Homo sapiens: one gene and its partners. The protein of the gene in region 3 purifies or fractionates together with the protein of the main gene of each other region. This does not show direct contact. Each region holds a gene or a part of one and is shown on either strand. Other genes may lie near its edges.

The links. Proteins that work in one complex are often made in the same cells at the same time.
Region 1: the proteins of DDX39A (region 3) and CELSR2 purify together in Homo sapiens (affinity purification with mass spectrometry; 2 studies listed by BioGRID and IntAct, with this or other methods). This does not show direct contact.
Region 2: the proteins of DDX39A (region 3) and FAT3 purify together in Homo sapiens (affinity purification with mass spectrometry; 2 studies listed by BioGRID and IntAct, with this or other methods). This does not show direct contact.

Annotation. Positions count from the first base shown.
Region 1 is NC_000001.11:109,259,527-109,266,556, forward strand, and holds part of CELSR2 (cadherin EGF LAG seven-pass G-type receptor 2 precursor), read left to right. Parts: intron 1-1,515; coding exon 1,516-1,738; intron 1,739-1,986; coding exon 1,987-2,102; intron 2,103-2,281; coding exon 2,282-2,370; intron 2,371-2,760; coding exon 2,761-2,918; intron 2,919-3,279; coding exon 3,280-3,443; intron 3,444-3,615; coding exon 3,616-3,741; intron 3,742-4,084; coding exon 4,085-4,251; intron 4,252-4,551; coding exon 4,552-4,839; intron 4,840-4,927; coding exon 4,928-5,102; intron 5,103-5,341; coding exon 5,342-5,483; intron 5,484-5,664; coding exon 5,665-5,785; intron 5,786-6,208; coding exon 6,209-6,392; intron 6,393-6,578; coding exon 6,579-6,680; intron 6,681-7,030. UniProt on the Homo sapiens protein: Receptor that may have an important role in cell/cell signaling during nervous system formation.
Region 2 is NC_000011.10:92,892,806-92,896,991, forward strand, and holds the end of FAT3 (protocadherin Fat 3 isoform 1 precursor), read left to right. Parts: 3' UTR 1-3,668; downstream 3,669-4,186.
Region 3 is NC_000019.10:14,409,315-14,416,344, reverse strand, and holds part of DDX39A (ATP-dependent RNA helicase DDX39A), read left to right. Parts: intron 1-3,120; 5' UTR 3,121-3,124; coding exon 3,125-3,332; intron 3,333-3,666; coding exon 3,667-3,794; intron 3,795-4,746; coding exon 4,747-4,839; intron 4,840-5,172; coding exon 5,173-5,356; intron 5,357-6,010; coding exon 6,011-6,129; intron 6,130-6,471; coding exon 6,472-6,603; intron 6,604-6,699; coding exon 6,700-6,809; intron 6,810-6,897; coding exon 6,898-7,030. UniProt on the Homo sapiens protein: Helicase that plays an essential role in mRNA export and is involved in multiple steps in RNA metabolism including alternative splicing. Regulates nuclear mRNA export to the cytoplasm through association with ECD.

The DNA.
Region 1 (7,030 bases), on a different chromosome or scaffold from region 3:
AGGGAACGCTGAGATTGGGTGACTTGCTCCTGGTCTCATCACACCCGGTTTAGAGGTGAGGCTGGGCCTAGAACCTGGTCTCTCCCCCACTGAGCGAGTTCCTTTTCTGAGCTGCAGCAAGTACTTTTCTCCCCAGGCATTAAGGGGAAGACACAGAAGAGCTGGGGGAACTGGAGGGGGTTGAGTTCTGAGATGGGGTGCTCCAGAAAACCATTGCACCTGTATGGGCCTGGGCAGAATGGCTCCGCCTCCGCCCAGCTGCTGGTAAAAGAGGATCCTGGCTAGGCGGCTTCCCTGTTGGCCTGTCAGCCAAGGTCTTTACACATCCTGCTCCCTGGGATGCTCACTGTCTCTGCTCTATGCTCCTGACCCCTCCCTTCAGGCTCCTGTGTCTTCTCAGGACACCCCCTGCTCCCCTTCCCTGTGGGCCTTTCCTTCCTAGATGCCCAGGCCCTGCTCCTTGTCCTCCAGGGCCATGCCCACTGGCTCTGCCAGCAGCCATAGGCAGGCCCCACTCCTTCCCCGCTGCATCTTCCTGCCCAGAACTTGCCAGACTTGACTTCTCTCTGCTGCTGCTAGGGGTGGGGGGAAGGGGAGGGACGGGCTTGGGGGAGGGGAGAGAAGTCTTTGTCCAGGAGGATGGTGGGGGGGGTTGGGAGGGGGGGGGTTAGAGCAGGCGAACAACAGTTTCCATGGAAACAAGAGCCAGTCACTAGGCACAGGAGCTGAGAACCTATCTCTAGAATCTGGGAATGGGGAGGGAGAGAAGGGTGGATTTTCCCATCTGATGTTGGAGTTTTCAGCTCCTCTGTTGAATTCTTGTCTGCTCTCAGGGCTCAGTTTCCCACTCTCAGCATGTCCCAGGTGCACAGAGGTCCTTAGTCTGGACCGCAGGGCTCAAGGTGGGAGTCCTCTGCCCCATTCCTGGGGGCTCCCCAGCTTCTCTCTCATACTCTTCCATAACCCAGACAAATCTAAGTGGAAGCCTGGTCCCATCCCCAGGGAGGGAAACTGATCTCAGTGCCTGAGAGGGACAAAAGCACCAGTGGGAAGGAGGGAGGAGGGAGGCTCCCAGCCCTCCCGCTGTCCTGCAGGCCCATCTGCTTGTGCACATTTACCCTCTTGGGGGCCAGGACACCCCCAGGTGTGCTTGGTAGTGTGACATCGAAGGCTCCCGGGATCCGGGCCTTACAACCAAGTGTCCCAGCAGGCCTGTGCTTATGAAACCCAAATGGGGTAGGGAAGGTGCTGGGGACTCCGAGGAACTTGCAGGGGAGCAGTGCGTGGAGCTGTGGCGAGAGCGGCTCAGTGAGCCAAACAGGGTGCCCATGAAGGGCTGGGGACCATAGGTCTCAGAGAAGATGGCACACGAGAGGAAGTGGGGATGCCTGGGAGGTTTGGGGAGTATTACGAGGGTCACGGGAGGCCATGGGAGCTATCACTGGGTTGTGGGGGGTCTCAGTTCCCCTCCTGTCCTCAGGTACTTGGTACTCACCTGCCTTTCCTCTTGTCCAGGTGAGCACTGTGAGGTGAGTGCTCGCTCAGGCCGTTGCACCCCGGGTGTCTGCAAGAATGGGGGCACCTGTGTCAACCTGCTGGTGGGCGGTTTCAAGTGCGATTGCCCATCTGGAGACTTCGAGAAGCCCTACTGCCAGGTGACCACGCGCAGCTTCCCCGCCCACTCCTTCATCACCTTTCGCGGCCTGCGCCAGCGTTTCCACTTCACCCTGGCCCTCTCGTGAGTGGCTGGGCACTGGGGGTGGGGAGTGGGCCTGGTGGGCATCTGAGGTGCCTCCTGTTCTGTGGTTGAAGTAAGAGGTCAGGCAGTGAAAGCGTGGAGCAGGCTGCCGGCAGAGCCAGGTCTGCTCTTGGAGTTGCCTGTGGTTCTGCCAGCAGATCTCCCTCCCCTGCGCTGGTTAGGTGGCGGGGGTGCTGGCATCCAGGTGGGTACCCCATTCCCTGCCCCCATCCCCAACTCCTGTTCAGGTTTGCCACAAAGGAGCGCGACGGGTTGCTGTTGTACAATGGGCGTTTCAATGAGAAGCATGACTTTGTGGCCCTCGAGGTGATCCAGGAGCAGGTCCAGCTCACCTTCTCTGCAGGTGATCACAGTTGCCCCCCATCCTTGCCCATCTTCCAAAGGCCCCAAGTCTTCCAGCCCCTGACCCCAAGCCACATACTCTATCAGCCAAATCTGGGCCCAGCCCCAGCCACTGGCACCCCAAACCCTGCCATTCCTAGCCCTCGTCAGGCATTCCAGCTCACCTGGTCCTTTCCCCAGGGGAGTCAACCACCACGGTGTCCCCATTCGTGCCCGGAGGAGTCAGTGATGGCCAGTGGCATACGGTGCAGCTGAAATACTACAATAAGGTGGGTGTGGAGGGCACAGAGGGTTGGGGGTTCTGTTCTTGCCTCAGGTGCTTACCCAGCCCTGAGTGGCATTGCCTCCAGGCTTGGGTGGGCTGGTCAGGGCATTTCTGGCTGAGAGGAAGGGAGCGGCTGGGAAGGTGCCACCTTGCTGGGCATTCCCACCCCACTGGGCACTGCTCGATGCTCTCTGTTCCACTAGGCAGCCGCAAACTTGGACACTGAGGAAGGTAGTTACATGCATAAACCACGTGAGCACACGTGTGTGTATATGCATGTGTGTACGTGTGTCTGGGCATGTGGGTGCACACAGAGGCACCCAGTGTGTGCTGGCCATGAACCTAGTGGGCTCTGTACTCAGTGTCCCCCTTCTCTGCTCTTTCCTGTCCACAGCCACTGTTGGGTCAGACAGGGCTCCCACAGGGCCCATCAGAGCAGAAGGTGGCTGTGGTGACCGTGGATGGCTGTGACACAGGAGTGGCCTTGCGCTTCGGATCTGTCCTGGGCAACTACTCCTGTGCTGCCCAGGGCACCCAGGGTGGCAGCAAGAAGTGAGCAGGGGAAAGGGCCAGGGATGGGGTGAAGTGAGGGCAGGGCCAGGCAGGGAGGGAAGGTGGAGAGGGTGGGCTTTTGGGGTCTCTCTCCCTTTGCCTCTCTTAGCCCCTGCTCAGCCCTGGGGATGGGGTCAAGACTGGGGAATCAGAGCAAGGCCCTGTGGGGCAGTCTGGGGAGGGGGCTGAGTGTTCGACAAGAACAGTTCCAGGTAGGGGTGACGCCCTTCCTGAGCACTGCTCTGCAGGGCCTCTTGGACACCTGCCTACGCCGTTCGTGTCTCTGGCCTGGCGGCAGAGCGAGCGGAGGACCAGAAGCTCCCAGCCCTCCCTTGTGCCGCCACCATCTTTGCTCCCCCAGGTCTCTGGATCTGACGGGGCCCCTGCTACTAGGCGGGGTGCCTGACCTGCCCGAGAGCTTCCCAGTCCGAATGCGGCAGTTCGTGGGCTGCATGCGGAACCTGCAGGTGGACAGCCGGCACATAGACATGGCTGACTTCATTGCCAACAATGGCACCGTGCCTGGTATGGGGGCCCGGGGTGGAGCCAGGCTGGGATCCCAGTGCTGAGAGGAGGGGCTGTGCCTGGTGTGAGGATGCCAGAATGGAGGGTCTCAGAGGCCTCTCTAACTGCTGCCACAGGCTTTCTCTTTAGAGCCCCAGCTCAGGTCCACTGAGCTGCCTTCTCTCCATTCCAGGCTGCCCTGCCAAGAAGAACGTGTGTGACAGCAACACTTGCCACAATGGGGGCACTTGCGTGAACCAGTGGGACGCGTTCAGCTGCGAGTGCCCCCTGGGCTTTGGGGGCAAGAGCTGCGCCCAGGGTAGGAGGGGCGGCTGTTAGAGGCCACAGCCTGGGTGCCATCAACAGTCTGGGAACTGGCAGGGTTGGGGCAGGCACTGGGCAGGGCTCTGCTGAGCGGGGCTGTGGGTGGAAAAGCGTGTCTGGGCAGAGCCCTGAAAGGGCAACACAGGAGACAAAGGGGCCAGTCAGAGGCAGGCCTGGGCACAGCGTGGGGCGGTCCCAGGGCAGGTACGCACTTTGGAGGGCGGGGCTGATGAGGGGAGTGGGCTCTGCCTCCCGTGCAGCCGCCACCGCTGAGCATCACAGCCCCAGGGCCCTCTGAGGCTCCACCCGTCACAGTCTGCCTTTTCCTGCCTCCCCAGAAATGGCCAATCCACAGCACTTCCTGGGCAGCAGCCTGGTGGCCTGGCATGGCCTCTCGCTGCCCATCTCCCAACCCTGGTACCTCAGCCTCATGTTCCGCACGCGCCAGGCCGACGGTGTCCTGCTGCAGGCCATCACCAGGGGGCGCAGCACCATCACCCTACAGGTGATGCATGGAAGGGCGGCTGGCCCTGGCCTGGCCATAGGGCCCTGGTAGCCTCTAGGCGGCTGGACAGAAGTGGCTGGGCAGGTCCTGGGCAGGGGTGGGGACATATAGAGGCCGCTGGATCCGTTGGGAAGGTCAATGCTGCCACCTGTTGGGCCTGAGGGAAATAAATACGCTTTCCTCTCTATGGCCTCAGCTGGGCAGCGGGATGGGTTTGATGGTCCAGAAAGGGGAACTGTGAGCTGGAGAACAGTGATTAAGGCCGTCTGCTGACCCTGTTTTCTTTCCTCCTGGTGTCAGCTACGAGAGGGCCACGTGATGCTGAGCGTGGAGGGCACAGGGCTTCAGGCCTCCTCTCTCCGTCTGGAGCCAGGCCGGGCCAATGACGGTGACTGGCACCATGCACAGCTGGCACTGGGAGCCAGCGGGGGGCCCGGCCATGCCATTCTGTCCTTCGATTATGGGCAGCAGAGAGCAGAGGGCAACCTGGGCCCCCGGCTGCATGGTCTGCACCTGAGCAACATAACAGTGGGCGGAATACCTGGGCCAGCCGGCGGTGTGGCCCGTGGCTTTCGGGGCTGTTTGCAGGTGAGTGTCCTGCCCTGCCCTCCCATCCCCTCCCCCACCACCTGCAGCCCCGCTCCACTGAGGGCAACACTGCTCCTGTCCCTCCCAGGGTGTGCGGGTGAGCGATACGCCGGAGGGGGTTAACAGCCTGGATCCCAGCCATGGGGAGAGCATCAACGTGGAGCAAGGCTGTAGCCTGCCTGACCCTTGTGACTCAAACCCGTGTCCTGCTAACAGCTATTGCAGCAACGACTGGGACAGCTATTCCTGCAGCTGTGATCCAGGTATGCTAAGGATCCAGGGCAACGGGCAGGTTATCAGGTGCCTGGGGCCACATGCTGGCTCTGCTGTGTGACCTGGGGCATGGGGCATCACACCACCTCTCTGAGTCTTAGTTGCCTACACAACAAAGCCATAGCCAGCTGATAGGATGCTATGTGGAAAGAAACAGATGAAGGGTTTGATGGAAGATGGTGCCAGGGGAGGGTGGGGGAATGAGCCTCTCTGGTCCTTCTGGTCCCAGGTTACTATGGTGACAACTGTACTAATGTGTGTGACCTGAACCCGTGTGAGCACCAGTCTGTGTGTACCCGCAAGCCCAGTGCCCCCCATGGCTATACCTGCGAGTGTCCCCCAAATTACCTTGGGCCATACTGTGAGACCAGGTAAGCAGACCAGGGCATGTGGCAGCAGGTCCCAGTGGCTGCTGCTTCTCTCTGGTGTGTCCCTCAGAGCCCCGAAAGCCTGGCTGATCCACAGCCAGGGTCAGAAGGGCCACATAGGGCTCACCTAGGTTAGGTGGGAGTGGCAGGGGGAGCTCATGCCTACCTGGGTCCCTCTCTGCAGGATTGACCAGCCTTGTCCCCGTGGCTGGTGGGGACATCCCACATGTGGCCCATGCAACTGTGATGTCAGCAAAGGCTTTGACCCAGACTGCAACAAGACAAGCGGCGAGTGCCACTGCAAGGTGACAGCCCCAAGCAAGCCTCCACTGTGGCCACTTGGGCCTCTGTCCACATCTCCTGGGCCCTAGAGGGCAGGCTGTAGGGATGGGTCTTCCTGTAGAGCTGAGGGCCTTGTGCCTTTGCTCTCACAGGCAGGGCAGTTGGCTGCTTACCTTCGTGTGTCTGAGGCGCAGGGGGACCCTGGGCCAATGTGTAACCCATGAGCTCTGGCCTGGTGTGGTGGTGGTTTGCAGCCTGTTCTGATTCTGTGACATCTCGCTGATGGGCTCAACTCCAAAGCATTGCTAGTGTTAATTATTTTGAATACTGCTCCTGAGGGGACCTGAGGTCGGGACCCTCTCCACAGGGGCCACAGCTGAGAAGGACCCATGAGCATCCTGGGAAGAGAGCCTGGCCAGTGACACCGTTCTTCCCTCCTTTCTCAGGAGAACCACTACCGGCCCCCAGGCAGCCCCACCTGCCTCTTGTGTGACTGCTACCCCACAGGCTCCTTGTCCAGAGTCTGTGACCCTGAGGATGGCCAGTGTCCATGCAAGCCAGGTGTCATCGGGCGTCAGTGTGACCGCTGTGACAACCCTTTTGCTGAGGTCACCACCAATGGCTGTGAAGGTGGGGCTCCTGGGATGGGTGGGCAGCCCTCCTTACAGTGTGCTAGGCACCTGCACCCCAGGAAAGCCAGGAAGGGGCTGGTTGCAGGCCTGGGGAGGCCTGGGGAGGCCTAGGGAGGGCTGGGGAGCCTGGGCAGGACAGCAGAGGGAGAGCTGCTCCTGGGTGACCATGTGCTCTTCCCCGCAGTGAATTATGACAGCTGCCCACGAGCGATTGAGGCTGGGATCTGGTGGCCCCGTACCCGCTTCGGGCTGCCTGCTGCTGCTCCCTGTCCCAAAGGCTCCTTTGGTAGGTGTTGGAGGCCCCGATGTGATGTCGAGGACATGGCCTCTGCTGTTAGTGGGATGAGGGCAGGAAGCTCCTGGCTGAAGATCCGGGGACCCCACTTTCTGGCCTCCAGGTCCTGGGATTTCATTTCCCATCTTCCTTGGTTCACATTCCCCCTTCCCCATGTTGCCCAGGTGTGCCTACATCTTGGACTGTTTTGTTTTGTTTTGGTTTGGTTTTTTTTCTGGGACAGAGTCTGTCACTGTCACCCAGGCTGGTGTGCAGTGGCGTGATCTCCGCTCGCTGCAACCTCTGCCTCCCAGGTTCAAGCAATTTTCCTGCCTAAGCCTCTGGCCGCCACCACACCTGGC
Region 2 (4,186 bases), on a different chromosome or scaffold from region 3:
CCCTTCTCATCTGTGGGCTTTGGCCATGATTTCCAAAATTAACAGGAGAATCATTCCACTGGAAATATAACAATCCAGTCCTCAAAACTGAAAGTTGACAGGTTGAGGGACTTTCCTTTTTTGCTTCAATCAGATTACGGCCGCCTGTGCAGTGGCCATGGTAAATATATGCATATTTGCACTATCTGCTTAATGAGCAAATCTGTGTCCACAGTTTCTGATGACATATGGCATTGGTGTGTAAATTGTACTGTCCCTAGTCTGTGCATTATTCACTCAGACATATTTTTAGTTATTTCAATTGCGTTTAATCCACTTCTTTTTTATGAGTCAGTGTTTCTGAATGTTTATGCAAAAAAAAAAATCCTTTTTCATTCCCAAACTTTCTAAGTAAGTGGATACACTACACTTCACAAGTTTTCCAGCCTTTCTCTTCCTGTCTCTTGGTCAGACCTACTCATGGAGGTATTATCCACACTGTGATCTTGAAATAAATGAATTTCACTAAGGCTGCTTTCGAGAACAAAGTCTTTGGTATTTTTCTTATGTAAGAAGCACATTTGCAAGAATCATGGAAAAAAATGACAAACTAATGGCCTAGAATAGAGTGACTGCTACACTTTAAGTAATGCAATGACATAAAAACCATCAAAGTAAAACCAACATGTCATTTCCTGCCCCCAGGAAATATTAGAATGAGATTAATGCTGATGAGTCCCTACTGCTTACACAGCATCTCTTTGAGGGAGAATGCCTGACTGACACAGTAATGAAAGAATAAATAGATCCTAATGCAGTCATGAAGCCACTGAAGAAAATTGTGCCCACCCTTTGCTGTGACCTATATAAAATATCTCTTTCTTTGGGATATCATCCCCTGATTTTCTGCAGAATAGCTCTGCAGCTAAATATATACCAGGCAAGCATGTATTGTGTTTTGATTTATTATCTTTAAACACATGATATCTCTTCACTTTTTGGAAAGTTAGATTTCTCTGTAGATTATGAAATGCTTTGCAGTCAGGCCAAGATGCTACTAGGTGGGGATGATCACTAATTCAAAAAAGCTGGAAGAATCCTATTTGCTAGTCCAAACTCCTTATTTTATCAAAGAGGAAACATACCCAGAGTGGGAAAGAGACTTGCCCAAGCCCACAGAGGAAGTTAATTCGCTTAACAAGGAGTAGAACCCATCCATCTAGCCAATATTCTTTTTACATCATATTGTTCACCCCTACACTGCCTTGAGCATGGGAGTCACCTGGTTCTGATGGACCCTCTGACTTCCACCATTCCTTCTTTGGAATATGCTATAAAAGAAAATTCATGGAGAATATTTTTCTGAAAGCCTCATGATCTTATGTTTCCTTGCAGTCCCCCTAGGGAGAGGGGTTATAGAATTCATACATTTCTGTAGACATTCATCGAAATGCTGCTTTTGCCAAATGAATGTTTGTATAATAGGGATGAAATGATAATTACAGAGTTCAGCTCAGACCAGTCATCAGTTGTAGTGAAACTTTGATTATACTGTTACCTACTGGTTGCATTTTTGGTTTTGGTTTTGCATTTTTTTCTTCCCACAAACACTGGCTACTCTTTGTCCTACCCCCTCCACCATGATGAACCATGTGGAAACTATTTAAATCAATTAATGTCTTTCTCATTTTTCGAACATGTATGTGCCACCTCCTGGAAGCCATTTCCCATAATCTGTTGTAGGCACTTTACTAGTATTGCACACATTCTGGTTAGGTTGAGAATAGCTAGACTCTTGGTGCTCGTCATATAGTAAGCAAGAACTTGGGAGTAATAAAAGGTGAATAAAATGCATGCTTCATTTATTCCCTTTCCTCTATGAATATTTTGCTGCTGCATTCTAGTCTATGCCAGCTTTCCATGTACCCTTGGCCTGCCTATTCATGAAATGCCATATAAAAGACTTAGGAACATGAGTAGGTGGTCCATGCTTTGAGGTTCATCCAATTAGGGAATAAATGTGAAAGGCTGGAAAGGGAACTAGTTTCTGGGATTTGCCTGGAACTTCCCTTGGACATTACTAGCACATTCTGGAAAAAAAGCAAGTTGAACATATCTACCATCAGTCCTCTCCTACTTACTTCCCACCCCACCCTATCCACTACCCCCACTGATGCTATGTTTGCATCATCAAAGTCAGGGGAATTGAGAAAAGAGATTATCAAAATAAATTATTAAAATCCAGAAAACAGTTTTATGTGAAGTAATTCAGGAAGATCTAGTGTTCATTTTGCATGGATTGTCCAGATAATTGGCTCTTCACTCCGCTGCCTTCCCAGTGCACAGGTATTGCTAAAGTGGTTAGGCTTTAATGTTTTATGTTTTTAGTTTCAAACTATGGGAAATGGAGATTTGAAGAGGCATTTATTCCTTGTCATCATTTTGTGTGCTCTGTGAGAAGGTGGTTATATGTTTTTGCTGGTTTGTGTCCCACAGTGTTCAACTGCACATTATTCTGATGAAAATCCACAATGTCTTTGAGCTTCTGGTTGTGTAATGCTGGGGTTTAAAGTCACCATTTGTGGGTTTGGCATCAATTAATATTTAGCCAGCTGGCTAAGAGATAGGAAAAGAATATGATATTTCTTTCCTTATGTAATAATGAAAAGCAATAATTACAAGTAGGTAATAATACACAAAGGCCATAATTAGTCTCTTCTAGTGTTTAGAATGCACTTGAGAATCGTAGAGTCATTTGGAGCGTGTTTGGACCAATTAGTATGTACTGTAGTACCCTTCTGGCAAACAAATAACTGAATTGCTACTATTTAACAATCTTATGAGCCCACACTACTGCATTTTGGGAGTGGCAAATGTGTTTGGAAATGGAAGCAGTTCTTTTTAAGCACTGTATCAGAGAGATTGTCTTGTACGTTTGCCTGTTGCAAACAGGCTGGTTTGTAAAAGATGTATGTTTTGGTGTTTGAAATGTTTATAAAATTGTATATAAATGGTTTCAATTTTCCAGGCTTTTGTAGATACTATATTTGATGCCTATCAGGATGCTTTAATTTGGGGGGTCGAATATAATTGTAAGTCATCCACGCTGTTGGTCTGCAAACTTTTGAGGTAACTACACACACACACACACACACAAGGATTTTAGATTTGAAAATGATGTTTTTTACTCATTTCAAAATGTACTGTAACCTTTCTTTGGTTCTTACTGTTTTCATTTAACTTTCTCTGTTTTCAAGAAAAATTGTCTTTATTGACATTTGTAAAAAAGAATGTGTTTTGCCCAGTTATTAAGTATTTTATTTTTATGCAATTTCAGAATCACAATGAGGTATGCCATTTCTTCATATACATGCACATTCACCTCAACTTGCACACACATCACACACCAAACCTTATGCAAAGGGGAAAGCTAACACTTAGAGTGGATTTTGTCCCTTAAGGAAATGGATTGTTCCTGCATATATTGCTGGTGGCAGTATTCAGTCTTGTGTTCTTTTTCTAAAAAAAAAGAAAAGAAAAGAAAAAAAAAACAAAAGCAAACAAAAAAAAAGACAGCCAAAAAAAAGAAACAACAACAACAAAAAAAAACACAACAGTGTACAGGTTTGTAACTGCCAAAATTTGATGGTTAAAACAAGTTTTCAAGTAAAAAGAAAAAAATGAAACTAGCAATTGTGTTGACTCTTTTTAAGTGTTTCCTTTTCTTTGTCTTTAGTTCATTGCTCGCATGGTATTTAGAGGTGTATTCCACAGGGCATGGTAGAAAGACGTGGTACAGAGCAAAAAAGCTCTTTAGCCCTAGTCTACCTCTCAAAGAGAGGGGTCTCTGGTCTGACAGGGACATTTTAGTTTTGTTGTGTTAGTGTGGCTTCCCCAACCCCCTGAGACTTTTTACCTCCAGAAAAACTTCTATCTGTCCTGGTACACATGTTGAAATCTTATGTAACTTCTTACTGAGCACACGCCTTGTGAGATTTTTTCCCTGGTGGGAAAATTGAAAAGAGTGCTGGAGGCTTGAACAAATAAAGATCATCGAGTCCTACATCTGTGGAAATCTAAGCACATCCCCACCTCTTCTAGACAGCAGCTCCAGCACTCCTCTCCCTCAAAAATAAATAAATAAATAAATAAGGTTTTTTCCAAAAGTTTTCCAAAGGTTTGGGGCACAATTGAGTTTTCCTCCAAA
Region 3 (7,030 bases):
GCAAAGGAGGCCCAAAAGAAGTGGGGGATTTGTGACCCTTCCAGGCAGCAGGAACAGCAAGTGCAAAGGTGCTGAGGTGTGTTTGAGACACGGCAGCAAGGCTGGCGAGTGAGGGGCAATGGGGGAGATGAGGTATGAGTATAGAGGAGTCGGGTTAGGAGGGGCCCGGTAGGCTGGCTTTGTGAGGACTCGAGTTTTTTTCTAAGCACAGTAGGAACCCATTAAAAGTTTTGAGCAGAATAGTGATGTACTCTTAGGTTTGTTTTTTTTTTTGAGACAGAGTCTTGGTCTTGCTCTGTCGCCCAGGCTGGAGGGCCATGGTGTGATCTCGGCTCTCTGCAACCTCTGCCTCCTAGGTTCAAGTGATTCTCCTGCCTCCAAGTAGCTGGGATTACAGGTACCCGCCACCACACCCGGCACATTTTTGGTATTTTTAGTAGAGATGGGGTTTCACCATGTTGGTCAGGCTGGTCCTGGACTCCTGACCTCAGGTGGTCCGCCCGCCTAGGCCTCCCAAAGTGCTGGGATTACAGGTGTGAGCCACCGCGCCTGGCCGTGACTTAGTTTGATAGGGTCTTTCTGGCTGCTCTGGGGAGGGGCTGGGGGATGGCAACAGGGAAACCAGGGAGGAGGATATTGGCTTAATTCAGGCAAGAGATGATGGCACCTACATGTCCAGCTGACAGTGGTTAAGCAAAATGTAGTATGTTGGTGAGATGGAACATTAGGTGACCATGGAAAGAAATGAGGCCAGGTGTGGTGGCTCACACCTGTAATCCCAGCACTTTGGAAGGCTGAGGTGGGCGGATCGCCTGAGCCCACAAGTTGGAGATCAGCTTGGGCAACATGGTGAAACCCCATCTCTGTTACAAATACAAAAATTAGTGGTGGCGGGCGCATGTAGCTCCTGCTACTAGGGAGGCTGAGGTGGGAAGATCGCTTGATTGAGCCCGGGAGGCAGAGGTTGAAGTGAGCTTTGATTGGGCCACTGCACTCCAGCCTGGGCAACAGAGCAAGACCTTGTCTCAAAGAGGGGGGAAAAAAAAGGAAGGGAGTACTGATGATGTGGTAGAGCACACTGTGCTGAGTGAAAGAAGCCAGACACAAAATGTCACAAATTATAAGATTTCATTTATGTGAAATGTCCACAACAACAGGCAAATCCATAGAAACAGAAAGCAGATTAGTGGTTGCCCGGGGCTGGGGTGGGGTGTTTAGGGTATGGATACGTAAAGGGTACAGGAGCTTTTATTTCAAGGTGATGAAGTATTCTAAAATTGCACATGTGGTAGTGGTTGCACATGTCTGTGACTACACTAAAAACCACTGAATTATCTGCCTTAAGTGGTGAGTTGTATAGCATGTAAATATCTCTGTGAAGCTTTTCTTTTTTTTTTTTTTTTTTTTTAGGCTGGAGTGAAGCGTGATTTCAGCCCATCACAACCTCCGCCTCCCAGGTTTAAGCAATTTTTCTGCCTCAGCTTCCCGAGTAGCTGGGATTATAGGCGCCTGCCACCATGCCTGGCTAAATTTTTGTATTTTTAGTAGAGTTGGGGTTTCACCATGTTGGTCAGGCTGGTCTCGAACTCCTGACTTCAGGTGACCCACCCGCCTTGGTCTCTCAAAAGTGCTGGGATTACAGGCGTGAGCCACCGCGCGCAGCCTGTAAAGCTGTTCTAGTTAAAAATAATAATAAGGCCAGGCGCGGTGGCTCACACCTGTAATCCCAGCACTTTAGGAGGCTGAGGTGGGTAGATCATGAGGTCAGGAGTTTGAGACCAGCCTGACCAACATGGTGAAACCCTGTCTCTACGAAAACTACAAAAATTAGCTGGGCATGGTGGCAAGCACCTGTAATCCCAGATACTCAGGAGGCTGAGGCAGGAGAATCTTGAACCCTGGAGGTGGAGGTTGCAGTGAGCCGAGGTTGCGCCACTGCACTGCAGCCTGGGTGACAGCAAGACTTCATCTCAATAATAATAATAATAATAATAATAATAATAATAATAATAATAATAAAACAGGTGATAGCAGCTTGGGGCCAGCATGGTAGCATAGGTGAGAACTGGCCAGAGGGCCTTGGTGGGATTCACTGCCTCATGGACAGGGAGGTTGAGAGAGAGAAAACAGCCATTGAGACAATGGAATTGCTGTTTCTGAGCCGGGAATGAGTGACAGCGAGGCCAAAAGTGGCCTAGGATCCTCAGCATCCAGCCTCAGGAAGAATTGTAGCAGCTGTCACCCTCTGCTCCACCCCCCACTGGAGTCTGGGGTAGGGGAGGAGGACGAAAGACAATTGTCCTCATGTTTGGGTCCCTTGCACCCAGCAGGCACTTGGTATGCATTAGATTAATAAAGCAAAGAGGTAGGCAGACTTTGTATTAATTCCATTTTCCATCTTCTCAGCTTTATTTTTATTGGCCCAGGCCCAATAGGAGGCCTTTCATGAGAGCACTTAATTATTCCCCTGTGCAGACCACAGAGAGTGGGAGAAGCTGGGGCTGGACAGATACTGCTTGCTCTCTCGCAAACTCAGTTCCCACCAGCATCCTGGCAGCCCCACCCCTGGGATCTTTGGGCTCCTGCCCCATGAAAGCCCAGTGGGTTCCTTGGGGAGTGATAGGGAGGGGGCTTCTCTGGGCTGAGTAGTCTGAGGAGGTTCACTGGAGCTGAGGCTTGCGTGTGGAGAAGGAGGCATTTGTGCAGAGACCTGGGGGCAGAGCATTCCTGGCGGTGACAGCCAGGTTCAAAGGCTTGGGGCAGGGGCTCCAGGGGTCTGAGCAGCTGAACAAGGCTGGGGGTGGTGTGGGATGAGGTGAGCAGGGGTCAAACCAAGGGGATTGCCTGGCCTGTGGTGAGAGTTGGGATTTTAACTCTGTGAGCCATGGGAAGCCCTTGGAGGTGGAGGGTGTTCTGTCTGTGGGTGTGGCCAGAGGGGCATGGGGGAGAGATGGGGTAGCTTGGGGGTGGGGAGGTGGAGACAGGGCGAAGCTGCGAGGTGCAGCCCAGGTAGAGCTGATGGGCTCACTCATGGAAGGAGGCGGCAGAGAATGCCATTTGAATGAAGCTTCATCATCCTTCTGTGCCCACTCGCGGGACCCTGCCTCTCTCTCTTCTCAGCATCATGGCAGAACAGGATGTGGAAAACGATCTTTTGGATTACGATGAAGAGGAAGAGCCCCAGGCTCCTCAAGAGAGCACACCAGCTCCCCCTAAGAAAGACATCAAGGGATCCTACGTTTCCATCCACAGCTCTGGCTTCCGGGACTTTCTGCTGAAGCCGGAGCTCCTGCGGGCCATCGTGGACTGTGGCTTTGAGCATCCTTCTGAGGGTACGCCTTCTGGGTGTTATCCTCTTGCCCAGGTCCTCACCAAGACAAGACCAGCCCTGCCCGCCCAGAGCGGTGCCGCCTCCAGTTTGCCGTGGGTGAGGGAGGGGCCCGTCTGTCCCGCGGATCAGTTGTGCCCAGCGGGGCCTGTGGCTGCCCTCGGCAGTGGGGCGTTCTGCTTTGACCAGGCGGATACCCCAGCCCTGCAGGTGTCTGTGGCCTTGTCCGGACTCGGCCTCTTCTGATTGCCCTCACTGTGGGCCCCCGGTCAACTGGTGAGGATCCTGCACGGGGGTGCATCCAGGTTCTCGTCCCTCACGCTCTGCTTCTCCTGCAGTCCAGCATGAGTGCATTCCCCAGGCCATCCTGGGCATGGACGTCCTGTGCCAGGCCAAGTCCGGGATGGGCAAGACAGCGGTCTTCGTGCTGGCCACCCTACAGCAGATTGAGCCTGTCAACGGACAGGTGGGTGGGCTCCTCCCTTCCTGGCCCCACCCTGCCTGTGGCGGCGGAAGTAGAGTAGGCTGGATGGGGTGGCTCACACCTGTTAGCCCAGTGCTTTGGGAAGCTGAGGCTGGAGGATTGCTTGAGCCCAGGAAGTCGAGGCTGCAGTGTGCTATGATCACACCACTGCACTCCAGCCTGGGTGGCAGAGGTAGACTCCATCTCAAAAAATAATTAGTTATAACAAAAATTAGAAATTGCCAATAAGCCAAAATAACTGGAAAGTGCCCACAGTTTGCCCCTTGCCCCAGAGGCATCGTTGCTGTTTTGCCGTGCCACTTACCTAGAGAGTGTCCATCTGTGAAGGTTGGGTTGCCCCGAATATAGCTGTCACCACTGTCCTTGCTGTTAGGCCCTGGCTGTCTTCTCCCATTGTCTTGTGTGCCACTGTCCTGGGGAGACACTTCAGTGAATTCTGGTGTCTTGCTCCCGAGTCAGGCCAGGTGCACATCTTTGGGCTTCATATTGGCGCCCGTGCCCTCGTTATCTCAGAGCACATCCTGAAGGATGAAGGTGCTGTGGAGGGCTGTGGTGTGGTCCAGTGTCTGATGGCACGGGTGGGAAGACCGGGGCCGCCCGAGTGCCGAGATTCAGGAAATCCTTAGAGAGCCAGGTCCCATGTCACCCAGGCAGGCCAGGTCTAACCATTACATTATGCGGGCCATTTTCTGTTCCATTTTCTGTTTCTTATTGTGGGTCCTGGTGTTGGGAGACAGGTTTCAATAGCTGTGGGAGGGTATAGGGAGTGAGGGGTGGGGAAGGGCCGTGAGAAGTGGGAGGCATTTGGACCGGGCCTTCAAATGGCCTGTGATGTTGGGTGCAGTGTCAGGGGGACTGGGTTGGGTGGACTCTGGTGGGGAAGGGGTTTAGGACACTGCCTAAGGTAAGGCCCTCTTCTTATGCCACTTCCCAGGTGACGGTCCTGGTCATGTGCCACACGAGGGAGCTGGCCTTCCAGATCAGCAAGGAATATGAGCGCTTTTCCAAGTACATGCCCAGCGTCAAGGTGAGTCCCTCGGGCCAGACTGGACCAGGCGCCACTTGGTTTCTGCAGCTTTGTTAGCCTCGGCTCTGGCCCAGCCAGCATTTACCAAGCTTGGCAGGGGCAGCTGCCTTTGAGGTTTGCGGTGGTTTTTGCTCCTTAAAAGCCTGATGAATTATGCATGGCTCCCAGGGGCCTGCGCAGGTCCCAGCCTGGGGCTGCCTTTGAGTGGAGCCCCGGGAGGCTCTCAGGCCTGCCTTGGTCCCCTGAGGCCTCCTGTTCGCAGGTGCTGGGCCGTGCAGGTTGGGGCCTTGGGCCGTGTATCAGCATGGAGCGGTTTCCTCCTCATCCCCATAGGTGTCTGTGTTCTTCGGTGGTCTCTCCATCAAGAAGGATGAAGAAGTGTTGAAGAAGAACTGTCCCCATGTCGTGGTGGGGACCCCGGGCCGCATCCTGGCGCTCGTGCGGAATAGGAGCTTCAGCCTAAAGAATGTGAAGCACTTTGTGCTGGACGAGTGTGACAAGATGCTGGAGCAGCTGGGTGAGTCCTCTGCCCTTGCAGCCCCAGCTGAGAGTCAGTGACTAGGCGGGCCCCATAGCAGGCGGAAGGCTCTTGAGTGGGTTACATGGGCGGCCGGCAGGCGGGGCTCCTGTGGTGATCTTGGGGAAAGCTCTGCTGCTGGCAGAGGGATGTGCTGTTTCTGAGCCCGAGCCGAATGGGACCACGGGGCCCAAGCAAGCCCCCGTCCCTCCTGGACGTAAAGGCATGCACACATACCTCTGGGAGTATGAGGCTTCTGCCACCTGTTGGGTTGGTTCCAGGCCCCGCCTGCCCTCAGTGAGCCCCGACAGGGCCGGTGGGAGATGGGCTTGTGTCCTGGGAGGCAGCTGCAGCTCTCACCCCAGCGGCTGTCTCTGCCTCAGGCTCCCCTCCCTGAAGCGTGGCTCGAGGCGCACGGGCACGGCTGCTCCGCGCCAGCGTGTAAGTGGATTGCAGCTCCTCCCGCGCCTGCGCTCGCTGGCCACCCCCCAGCCCCTCAGGCACCAGGACTGGCCACTCCCGCGGCTCACTCTGCCCTCGTCACGGTGCCACTGGCTCCCTGGCACAGGTTGGGAGGGGTCTGGGTCTGGTCTGGGGTGGGGGTCCTGCATGGCAGACGCTCATGCCCACCCATGTCTTGCCCTCCCCACCTAGACATGCGGCGGGATGTGCAGGAGATCTTCCGCCTGACACCACACGAGAAGCAGTGCATGATGTTCAGCGCCACCCTGAGCAAGGACATCCGGCCTGTGTGCAGGAAGTTCATGCAGGATGTGAGTAGGGCGAGAGTGGCAGCTTTGGCCTTCCCCAGGGGCCTGGAGCCTGGGGCCCCAGGACACCCGCACGGCCCACATGGCACGGAGGATGCTGGGATGCTGGGAGCCGGCGGAGCCTCCTTTCCTCCCCTCGGTCTTGTCAAACTGGGAGTCAAGCTTGGTCCACACCTGAGTCGGGCCAGAGCTTACATCCAGCTTTTGAGCGATGTTTACTGAGGTCTGGTGCAGCAGGTCCTCTGGGAAGTGTCGCACAAAGGAGTCGCCCACTGGAAGGTTCTGGGCAGGCGAGATGCCCAGAGGTGATCCCTGCCCGCCCCTCCCACCTCCCTTCCCACACAGCCCATGGAGGTGTTTGTGGACGACGAGACCAAGCTCACGCTGCACGGCCTGCAGCAGTACTACGTCAAACTCAAAGACAGTGAGAAGAACCGCAAGCTCTTTGATCTCTTGGATGTGCTGGAGTTTAACCAGGTGATACTTCCATCAGCCTGTCCTGGGGCTCAGGACCTTCGGGAGGTCACTGGGCCACAGGGACTGTGTGGCCCTGACTGCCACTCCTTCCCTCAGGTGATAATCTTCGTCAAGTCAGTGCAGCGCTGCATGGCCCTGGCCCAGCTCCTCGTGGAGCAGAACTTCCCGGCCATCGCCATCCACCGGGGCATGGCCCAGGAGGAGCGGTGAGTGCGAGCCGCCCGCCAAGGCTGCAGGGAGCACCACCAGGAGCCCAGTGTCTGACGGCCTCCACTTGTTTCTCCTGCACCCCAGCCTGTCACGCTATCAGCAGTTCAAGGATTTCCAGCGGCGGATCCTGGTGGCCACCAATCTGTTTGGCCGGGGGATGGACATCGAGCGAGTCAACATCGTCTTTAACTACGACATGCCTGAGGACTCGGACACC